Regions from separate parts of the Homo sapiens genome. Here region 2 is linked to region 1. A link means that fine-mapping ties the variant in region 1 to the expression of a gene that starts in the linked region. Tissue or cell type: whole blood. Region 1 holds a variant in brackets; the other region holds the start of a gene. All regions are shown on one strand. Distances are from middle to middle.

What was found. PIP is the estimated chance that this variant, and not a neighbour inherited with it, causes the effect.
Region 2: it holds the start of IDS, and the variant in region 1 is fine-mapped to the expression of IDS in whole blood (TOPMed, PIP 0.97).

The regions. Positions count from the first base shown.
Region 1 is chrX:149,648,714-149,654,139 of GRCh38, forward strand. It overlaps the pseudogene LOC100420321. Among named protein-coding and RNA genes, the nearest start is that of TMEM185A, 20 kb to the left of the region's middle. The variant T/C (reference allele first, on the strand shown) is at 3,170.
Region 2 is chrX:149,501,965-149,507,390 of GRCh38, forward strand. IDS (iduronate 2-sulfatase) reads right to left here and starts at 3,342. Exons shown (of 9, transcript NM_000202.8): 1 at 3,071-3,342; 2 at 2,193-2,329; 3 at 1,348-1,525. The coding sequence starts at 3,173. RefSeq lists enhancers at 1,921-2,469, 2,593-3,094, 3,087-3,246 and a silencer at 2,431-2,530.

The DNA of each region.
Region 1 (5,426 bases):
AAAACAAGCCCAACAGGCCCAAGCAAAATTCAGGCAAAGGTGCCAGTGGCCACAGAGGTTTCTTGCCAGAAAAATGACACCCCAAAGGTCCCATAACATTACAAAATAACAAACTCTTATACATGAAATGGATTAGTAAAAATACATGTGTGATTAATATCATTCATAAACTTAGATGTTAAAACTAATTAAATCTTCTGTTAAAAGGAACAAATTTGAAAATTACTAAAAGGAAACAAAGATAAATCTCCAATCACTCAATAGAACAGGAAGCCAAAGATGGTATGCAATGTGTTTCCTTCCACCCACCTTGACCTCCCTTACCAAGAACTCTGACTACTCTGTTCAAATACAGGGTGAAGAAAGGGCCTGATTTCACATGGGGTAGGTTGTGCCCCTGGAACTTGCACTGGCCCTGTCCCTAAACCTGCCACCTGGTGGCCCTGGCTGCAACTTGTACTCATACTCCCTCTTCCCCCTCTCTTAAAGCCTCTTCTTACAGAGACGGGTAGGAGGTGGGATCTGTCCCATGGACCTTGGCCACATACTCCAGGACTTTCATCTTGTTGGTTTTAGTGTGGGCTCTTGGACTCTACAGGAACTCATAGTGTGCAGGATCACTGCTGGGCACCTGGTGGTACTCCAGGTAGTTTTCCTGCACCCAGTCTTGGGTGAGCAGCTTCCTGGGCTTCCCATAGACACTGTGCTTCTTCCCAGCATACAGCCCCATCACACTCAGGGTTTCCCATATGACCTCTTCAGGGGTGCAGTTGCCCTCCATTATAATCGTGCACAGGACCATTATCTGGAGGCCTGCATTGGGCTTGCTCTGATCATCACCCAGCAGGCCGTCATAGGAGAGGCCCAGGGAAGTGACAAGGATGTAGGAGTGGCCAGTGGTATCCACTTCCTTCATGTCAAAAAAAAAAAAGACCAGCCACATGCACTTGAAGATCACAGGAAAGTAATCCTTATAATTTTTGATGACACTCTCTAGCATTTCTGCCTTTGTGTTTGTCTCCTTGACTCAATACTTGTAGAGCAGGAAATGAACCAACTCAGTCACCTTCCCATCAAGTGCTTCTTGGAACAAGGTCTTCAGGTCTGCTGGGTCTGGTGAGGTGCCTGGAGCCTCCTCTTGGCTGCTGGAGCCCTCATTAGATTGGCTCCATAGAGTGTTGTCAATGGTAGTGGGGGAGGTAGAGGTTCCCTGAGGACTCTGGGGAGAACCAGGTGACCCAGCAGCAGGCAGCCCCTCCAGGGTGCCCACTGTCAGAGGAGAGGAGAAGGAGGCAGCCTCCTGTTCCTCAGCCAAGGGAGCCTGCACACCCACCAGGCCCAAAGCCTCGTCTCCTTCGGCCTCAAGGCTTTCCTCAGGCTCGCAGTGCTGATTCCTCTGCTCAGGAGACATGATGACTCTGGTCAGAATGGCAGAGTGTGGGCAGGAGCTGGGCAAGTGGGACCCACAGGCCTGAGGAGAGAGGGAGCCAGTGAGGGACCTCAGCTGAGAGCCGAACCTTGGAGGCTCTAACAAAAGCAGACTTATGGATCTTTTCATTTGGTGCTCCTCTGGGGCCTCCTGGGGCACCTATCCTCCTAGCTGGCCTGTTCACCGAGAACTTGGAGGAAGTGAGAGTGTTACAGTGGGTAGCTAGTCAGGTATGAATAGGGAAGGAGAGGGTTCCCCCAGCCCCTTCACTCATGTGCACATGCATGCGTGCGTGCACACACACACACTAGGAATGTTGGGTGACCATTAGGCGATGGTCAAGTGGTTGTTAACTATTTCTGTAAAGTAATAATTGTTCACAGCCCTTGCCAGGGGAAGGCAGTCTCCTAATAGAAAACACCTGAAATGGATCAGCAGCTTCCCAACAAGATCTCAGGACTGGGGAGAAAGTAACACAAGATCTCTGAAGTAGGCTGATATGGTTTGGCTGTGTCCCCACCCAAATCTCATCTTGAATTCCCACGCATTGTGGGAGGGACCCAGTGGGAGGTAACTGAATCATAGAGGCAGGTCCTTCCCATGCTGTTCTCATGATAGTAAGTCTCATGAGATCTGATGGTTATTATAAAGGGGAGTTTTCCTGCAAAAGCTTTTTTTTTTTTTTTTTTGCTTGCTGCCATCCATGTAAGATGTGACTTTCTCCTCCTTGCCTTCTGCCATGATTGTGAGGCTTCCCCAGCCACACGGAACTGTAAGTCCAGTTAAACGTCTTTCTATTGTAAATTGCCCGGTCTTGGGTATGTCTTTATCAGCAATGTGAAAACTAATACATATGCCAACATAAAACCCCAAGTCAAGAGGTCAAGCTGTGACTTTGGTTTCTCAAGTTGACTACTTGGCCCTCTTCCGAGTTATACTTTTCTTGTTTCCTTTCCTTCCTTTCCTTACTGTTCTAAAGCTTTGTGTTTTGTTTGTTTGTTTGTTTGTTTTTTGCCTCAGTCTTTCCTTCTGCCTTTGGCCCCTCAGTCGAATTCTTTCTTCTGAGGAGGTAAGAACTGAAATTGCCGCAGACCTATATGGATACACCACCAGTAACTCAGGGTAACTTGGGTACCTGCCACCACTAACAAGAGGGCTCCTCAGGGTGCAGCTTGTCAGCAGAAGCCACGGCTCCAGCAATAACAGTAGGACAGGTGGGTTGGCACTTTGGAGTCCCCTCTGCTCTGGGGCCGGTGGAGCCCTTTGTATACATTTAAAGTAAACACCTCACCTTGCCTGCTGGCAATACCTGGGCCTCCTCTGCTGTATGACTTCAGGACACTGCCTCAGACCAAGGCCCAAACCTCTCTGAGACCTGGGAGAAAGAAGTGAGGGGGCACCACACGGAAAATTCTGCACGGGATTCCCAAGGCTGACAGAAGGAGCAGGTTTCAGGGGTGCCTCCTCTGTCTGCGTTCCTCCAGGTATTCAGATTTATTCCCGACAGGGCCCAGCCCTTTCGCTCCTGCTCAACTGTGGATGAGTCTTGTGTGCCAAGGCCACCATCTTCCTGGGACCCCCAAGGAGAAAGTGGGGGACCATGTCCCTTCTCCACAGGCCTGCCTTGGGCCTCCCAGGACTGATAGCAGAGGCAGATTTCCTAGGTCCAGGATAACAGGTCTGCTGAGTCCTCTCTCAGGGCTCTAGGGGACTTCTCTCTTTGCTGGCCTGAGGCCCTAC[T/C]CCTCATATTACACCCCTCTCGTCACTGGCACCCCAAAGACACAGCAAAGATGTGCCACACACAGCCAGCACTCCCAGGACCTCCCAGGGTCGAGGTCCTCTGAGTCCTCCCTCTTCTTCCTCCTCTTGATCCTGTCAGGGCTGAGCCTCACCCCTTTGTGGACCTGAATCTATATCCCTCAAATTCCCAAGGCCAATTGAGAAGGTGCCTCAGTCTCAGAAAGAAGTGGAGTAGGCCCCCTGTTCTGGGTTGCTGGGTCCCCTCAGGCCTGCCTTGTCTCCCAGCCTGGCCTGGACCCACCTTCTGCTCCCCTGAGGCCGTGCTCATGATTCCAAGCCCCTTCCCTCCATCAGCCCCCGATGTGAACATCAGGATCCACATGCCTGTCCACCATGCCCGGAACTTCCCAGGGCTGACAGCAGAGATGGAGCCTCGCTCTGTGGGATCTCAGCCCTCCTTCAGGGTCTGGACCATGATGCCTGGCAGGCAGAGCATGGGTCCTGCCCTTTCCTAATCAGCCTTTCCCTGGTCACACCAAGCTCTGTCTCCAGAATGCCCTGCGGCTTAAGTGGCAGTGGAGCCGGGAGCGGCCCAGCCTGAGAAGTCTGCCCCCAGGTGGCCCAGGGCTGGCAGCAGGGGTGGCACTGGGTTAATTGGGGTCCTCTCTCTGGGGTAGGGGCATCCTCAGTCTTCCTCAGTGTCTCACCTTGCCTCCTCACAGAGCCGGGGCCTGTTTCACTCCACCAATCTCAAGCTGCCACTCAGAGCGAGGCGCTCTTGCTATCCTCTGACCCCTGAGGCCACGTCAGTGGCGTGACATCCGGCCCCCAAGCCTGGGGCTTCCCTGGGTCGACAGCAGCAGCGGAACTGGATTCTTCCAGGCATGGGGGTAGGAATGGTTATAGGGGCCCTCAAGCTTCCCTTAGGGTCCTGACATTGATTCCTTGCAGAGCCTGGACACCCTGCCCTCTGCCAATTGGGTCTGCTCCCTTCACACCAAGTCTCTGACTCCCAGTCCCCTGAGGTGGCAGTGGTGGGAGGCGTGTGTTCAGGGCGACAACATTGCCAGGATCTTCCAGGATTGTTAGAAGGGGCTGAGCTGGATTCTCTGGTTCCTCTACAAGGGGAGGGTGGACTCTCAGTCCTCACTCAAGAGGATCCTCCTCCTGGCTCTTGGATCTTTGATGAAGCCATGGGCAGGAGATACTCTGTTTCTGCCACTTCTGAGCATTTGCCCAGCTGCATCTCTTGCAGAGAATGGCTGCGGGTCCCAGGCCAGGTACTCCCTGCAGAGCGGCAGCTTCTGTGATTGTAGTGACCTCTGGGAGAAGACACACACCTTCCCAAGGAAGCTCTTCCCCAGCCACAGGTCGAGTTTGCAAACCTGTTTTCCTAAAATATTTGTTTTTACATTAAATAGGCTGAGCAGCAGCATGAAATTTGGGGATTCCTGCCATTAGAATTATCGAGTATTTCATAGCTCAGTGCAGTGATTTTCATTTTTAAACTTTCATTCAGCATCAGAAATCATACTTAACCTCATTATGCCTGTTTCATTCTAATGCTCAACACTCTATTTGTAATCCATTCTTTATGTTCAGTTAAGCCAATTCACCTATTAATGTGGTTTTAGGTGGTTATTAGCACAGACTGGAGCTACTACTGTTTCAATGAAACCAGACTACTGGCACCTGTGGTCTCAGGTGCCACCTGACATTTTCACACTGGAATAGGGGCAAAAATTTAAACATTTCCTTCTACACATCCTGTCATCTTCCTTCTATGCCAGCTATGGACTCTCCCTAACTTCCTTGACACTCTGGCCATTTCGATTACAGGTACCAGTTAAACACAGTCTTCATTCTCCCCCAGGGCTTTGCTTTGTTGTTTAGATTTTGTTGTTGATACTATTTGTTTTTTTATTTTATTTTATTCTTTCTTCTATAGTTTTCCAGGATTGATTTTGGTAGTTGAGGGCAGAAGTCCAAGCCTGACATTCATCTTGGCAGCTAAATTTTAAGCATTATATCTGTAAATCTTGAATAAGAAAAATTGATATCTTTTCAATAGTCTGTTCCCTATTAAGGGATATAGAATACGGCTCTGTTTATCTGGGAACTTTTTGACCTAACTCTATCAGTACTTGCATAGTTGTTTCCATAAAGATCTTGTATGCTTTGTCTGTCTCCATTGGATAATTTCTAGATTTTGTTGCCATTGTGAATGGGGTATTTTCTATTACTTGTTCTGAATAGT
Region 2 (5,426 bases), 150 kb before region 1:
CTCCCATGAGCCTTCATGTCTTCCTTGGGAAATGATGATGATGATAAAAACCCACCTTGCTTGCTGTTGGGAGGATTAAAGGAGTGGCCAGCATGGTAAACGGTACATACCTGGCACACAGTGGTGGCTACTGTCATCTTGAAGCAGGCCCAATGCTAACAGAAAAAGGTCTTGAGAACAAAGATTCAGCTGAAAAATGTGTTCCCACAAGGGCTGCAGGGAAAGGTTTATTCTCTGAGAAGGACATGGTGCTTAGAGCCTGGTGCCAAAATCCAATCATCAGGAGGGAGGAGGTCAAGCAACATCACTCAGTCCTTGCCTGGTTTCCCCTCCCAAAGCACAATCTCCTCCCTCTGCTGTGTTTCCTCCTCTCTCCAAAATCATCACTTCCCTCCAGCTGCATTTGGGCAAGGGGTATGGTAATGAGAACACCAAACTGCAGAAAGTTCTCCTGACACTGGACTTTTGGCTGTGCAATATGATTCCTGACAGGTTCACCTCTGAAACTGGCCTGACTTAGTAGAGCTGAATGTCACTCTCAACCTGGGCTGGCCAGCTGAGCTCCTGCAGAAGGCTGCCAAGCCTGCCGGTGTAACCACTGAGCAAAGGGAAAGAGACTGAAAACATTCGTCATTCCCAAATGATAAGCATTATTGTCCCTATGGTGCTCTTGTCTTCCAATACTTTTTTCTCCATTTTTTTTCTCAAATACTCATGCATTACTTCTATAAATAAAAAGTTTTAAAGTTTGTTTGCTTTTCACTATCCCCATATTGGCATTAAAGAGAGCCAGTTTATCAGGCAGCATTTGAGGTAAGGAATGTCCGTCTCTGGGACCCTATAGATCCTGGGTACCAGATTACACTCATCTTTCTGACTTAATTTCCAGAGTGGATAGCAGCCCCTACCTAAGCACAGCCCCCTCATTGGGCAATAAGTCAGCAACAGCAATGCTGGCCACACGGGAGGCCCTCAGGTGTCCTCACCCCACCCCTAGGTTTACTGACAGGTACCCTGCAGGGGAGAGGGTGGGGCCCTGAGCTGGACTCCACCCAACACTGCCACCTCCCCAGCCTGTGTCCTCCCTACCACCCGAGGAGCTGAAAGACCCAACAGCACACCCTCAGTGGTTTCTGAAAGGAAGCAAAGCTCTTTCTACCCTTTTTCACTTTGGGTGAAAACGTGGCTGGGTTGACAAGTCAGTTTTTTAGAAAGGAAGCACTGACTAGCGAGGGACTCGCCCAGCCAGAAGAGGGCTCTGCAAAGACAGCCCCATCCCCAGGATGGGAATGCTGGATTCAGACACCACAAACCAAGAGAACCCAGACTCTGGACATGGAGCAGTACCAGGGTGAAAGACTTTTCCCACCGACATGGTCACATAGCCATTCTCCTTGAAGTACTGGGGGATGGTGGAGAAGTTTCCAGCGTGCACCCTCCAGTAGGAGTTGAAGTCGTACAGGCGGGTGGTGTCAGGTCTCCTGCCAGTGAGGAAAGAAACGCGGCTCGGGGCGCACACTGCTTGCTGTTAGGGAGCAGAAGCAGAGGTAAGCATCGCCACAGCAAAACATGTCTGCCATCTCTTAGGTAACCAAGCAACCGCCCTCCCGAGGCTCCTAGCAAACAGCTTGGTAGCTGAGTCATGCAGAGCTCAAACCAGACACTGGGATTTGGGTGTCACCTAGGCAACAGACTGCTTCCGGGAGAGAAAAGGGAAGCAATCAGCCCCTGAAACCAGCAGATGCTTATCTCCTCCTACGCAATGGCCTCCCCAGGCACACAGAGCGGCCAGTGTTGCTGGGGGCAGAGCCATGAGGGGGTTCAGGGAGCAGGGCCACCCTGGCTAGCTCTCACCTGAGGCCCAGCCTGCAGACCTGTGGGTGCCCTTCTGCAGCACCCCTTCCTTCTGAGCACCAGGCAAGCGCCCGTTCTGGGAGAAAGCTGGCCAGGGCTGCCATGAACACATCAGGGCCAGGGCGCACCTTGCACCCAAGGAGAAGGCCACCCTTGAAGGTCAAGCTTTCCCATGAGTGGAAAACCAGATTTTCTCCACTACCATTTTCCAGACTATGCTTCCCTCTAACAAGATGTCCCGCACAATCTGTGCCATCTGACAATAGCTGAAGCTCCCCGCCCCCAACCCTCAGTGCACGAAGCAGCACACACCCACAGCTAGAGGTTCCCAGACATACCTGCGCAAAGGCATTCTGGAAGAGGAGGCTGTGGGATGCCAGTTGGTCAATATTTGGGGACCTCACCAGCTTATCCCCATAACAGCCCAGGGAGGGGCGCAGGTCATCCACGATGATGAGAAGAACGTTCAGAGCATCTACACAGGAGGGAGGGGCTTTGGTGAGGTAACCTGCACTGACACTGAACCCTCCCTCATGGTAGGTGCTAGGTTACTAAGAGGCCCAAGGCTGGACCCTGCACCTTAACAGCCTAGCCAGGGAGGGCGCTGTGCCTCAGCAAGGGTGGGAGTGGGGCTCGAGGAGGAAGCCTGAGTCCTGGGTGGCAGGGTTAGGCTTTGGTCATGGCCTCCAACCTGGGTGAGGAAGCGAGATAGTGAGTGAAAGATGGTGGAAAGGAAAGATGAATTTAGGAAAAAAAGAGAATGATGTATGCAGGAAAGGACAGATGGTTGGATGGAGGAAGATAAGGAGGAAAAGATGAATAGCTGAAGGGAAGAAAGGATGGAGAGAAGGAGGGGAGAAGAGAGAGAAATATGAATGGATAGAAGGTAAAAGGGACGGATGGACCAATGGAGGGAGGAAAGGAGGGGGAAAGATGGATGGATAGAGATGGGAAAGATGGGGGGAAAGAGGAAGGGAAGCACGGAGGGATAGGAGATGGATGGATGAATAGATGGAAAGAGGGAAGGGAGGGATGAAGGGACGGTAGGAAGGAGTGAAAAATGGAGGGAGGGAACGAATGATGGATGAAAGAAGGAATGGTAGGAGAGAGGAAGGGTAAAAAGAATGGATATAAACAAAGAAGGAAGGAAAGAAGGAAGGAGGAAGGAAGGGAGGGAGGAAGGGAGAAGAGATGGCAGGGAGGGCGTGGGCGGCACCTGTGGTCGAGTTGGCCTGCGTTTCGGATCCGAGGGCGACGCAGACGGAGCTCAGAACCAGACCCAGCCAGAGAAGGCCTCGGCCGGTCCGGGGTGGCGGCATTTCGGCTTCGACGCGGCCGCTTCAGAGCGGCGGGGACAGGCTGCAGCAGGTGGCGCAGTTAGCAGCCGCCGCCGCAGCCACAGAGACCTCCTCGTCGGGAACCCATGAAGACTGCGCAACACAGCCGCCGCCCGGGCCCGCAGGCCCGGGCGCTGGCCGCAGCGCGAGTGCGTCCGTGCGACTCTTCCCTGCGTCCCTCCCCTCCGGGGCGGGTTCTAGAGGTGCGCGTCATCCTGCAGCAATAGGCGTGGCCGAGAGACAGGCGCAGAGCGGGGGCGGGCCAGTTGCCTTGCAAGCTTCGCAGACCCAGCGGCCCGCAGGCCCCTAGGTGTAGAACTGCTAGGGGTATAGCGATTCAGCCACTGCCCTTAACAACTAGCAGTTACCCGTCTTTTTGCCTTTGCTTGTGCTATGCCTTTCACCTGGAAGCCCTGCCCTTCCTTCTTTTTATAAAAGACACACTTCTTGTAAGCCAGCCTCAATGCCATTCTCCTTCCATGAGGCCTTTTGAGAAAGTCCCTTCCTCCATCTAAAGGGACTCCCTTTCCTATTCATTTCTTCAACTAATTCTTATTAAGTATCGCAAATATGTATACCAGGCGCTGTTGGTGGCACTGGGGCTCTATGTCCCTGCTTTGGTGGAGCTTAAAACAATAAAAAAATATAGAGAGTGTCGGTGGGCATACCCGGTCTGGAGAAAAATAAAGCGTGGGTGCGGGGCATGCTTGTTATTTTCTATGGGGTGGCCAGGCAGGGCCTCACTAGTGAAGTGGCATTTGAACAAAATTTTGAAGCAAGTGAGGGAGCAAGCCGCATTGAGGTCTGCAAGAAGGGTGCGCCAAACAGAGAGAGCAGCAATTGTGGGGAGATGGAATCCTAGCCCTACACTGTACTGTACTGAATACTATTATACCGTCCTAATACTGCAAACACAGTTTGATTTTCAACTTTGAGAATCAATCTATAACAAAGCCCAGATGACTTAATTATGACTAAACAACAATGGACAATGGGAAGGTACAAATACAGCTGTGATGGTGCTGTGGTGCACTGCTCAGATCTCCCTTCAACACCAAAAATTTTATTTCCCTAGCTGGCTTGAGAGCTGTTAGCTGTCGTTAGCCCTCATCAGAAATTGTCTTAGAAAAAGATAGGTACCTCAGCCAAGGTCACCCCTGTTCTCAGGAAGCCCACATCAGTGATTCAACTTGAAGGTACAAAGGTGCAGCCCCTTACCCCAACTTGGGACATCTCTGAAAGGCCATTTCAGCTTCAGAGCTCCCTGTGGGGTTAACTGAAGCCTTTTTTGAGACTGCCCACTTTCTCTGTCTGTTGAATTTTGATTTCTTCCCTCCCCTCCCCTTCTACAGGTGTTGATCCTAAGAGTACTCCCTAAGAAACTTCCTGCACATTACTCTACATCTTAGTCAGCTTCCTTGGGAACCTGGCCTGCAGCAACAGTTGACAAAAAGCTGGGAGGAGGAAGGGAGATGGCAGGAAATGTAGGCACATTAATTTAGGGTTAGCAATTTAGGATTGTCTCCTTTGCCCCAGCCTATCGCAAAAAAATAATAATAATAATAATAATAAATCAATAGTCGCTGTCCCCAGTTCATAGAAAGAGAAATACAGATTTAGGGATATTACTTAAAGATACAAAAGTAAACAATAGAAAACTTAAAAATGGCAATAAATCTATATAGTAAAAGGAGAAGGGAAAATGGCAGGGAGAGATGAAACAAAATTTGTCATGAGTTGATAACCAATGAAGTTCATTGATGAACACCTGGGGTTTATTATACTATTTTCTGTAATCTTGTATAGGTTTGATCAATTTCCAAAATCCAAGGTTAAAAATATGTACATAAAAAGAGGAATGGATAAGTGATCTCATCTATCATAGGAAGAAGTCAGCAATGTCTAAAGTTGAAAACATTAGAAAGTTGATATAGAAATAGCATAGTATTTAGAAAGACAGGGACAATCTACTAGAAGAAATGAAAGTAGAAACATTTAAAATGAGAACAGAAGAGGGAAGGTGCAGGGCAGAGGGCCTTTGCTTTGTATGGTATGTCTTTTGGTCCTTTTTGACTTAGGTGTTAGTGTCCTCCCCCCAAAAATTGTATGTTGGAGTCCTAACACCCAGTACCTCAGAATGTGATCTTATTTGGAAACAGGGTCTTTAACAGGGTAATCAAGTTAAAAGGAGGTAATTGGGTTGGGCCCTAATCCAATATGACTGGGGTCCTTATC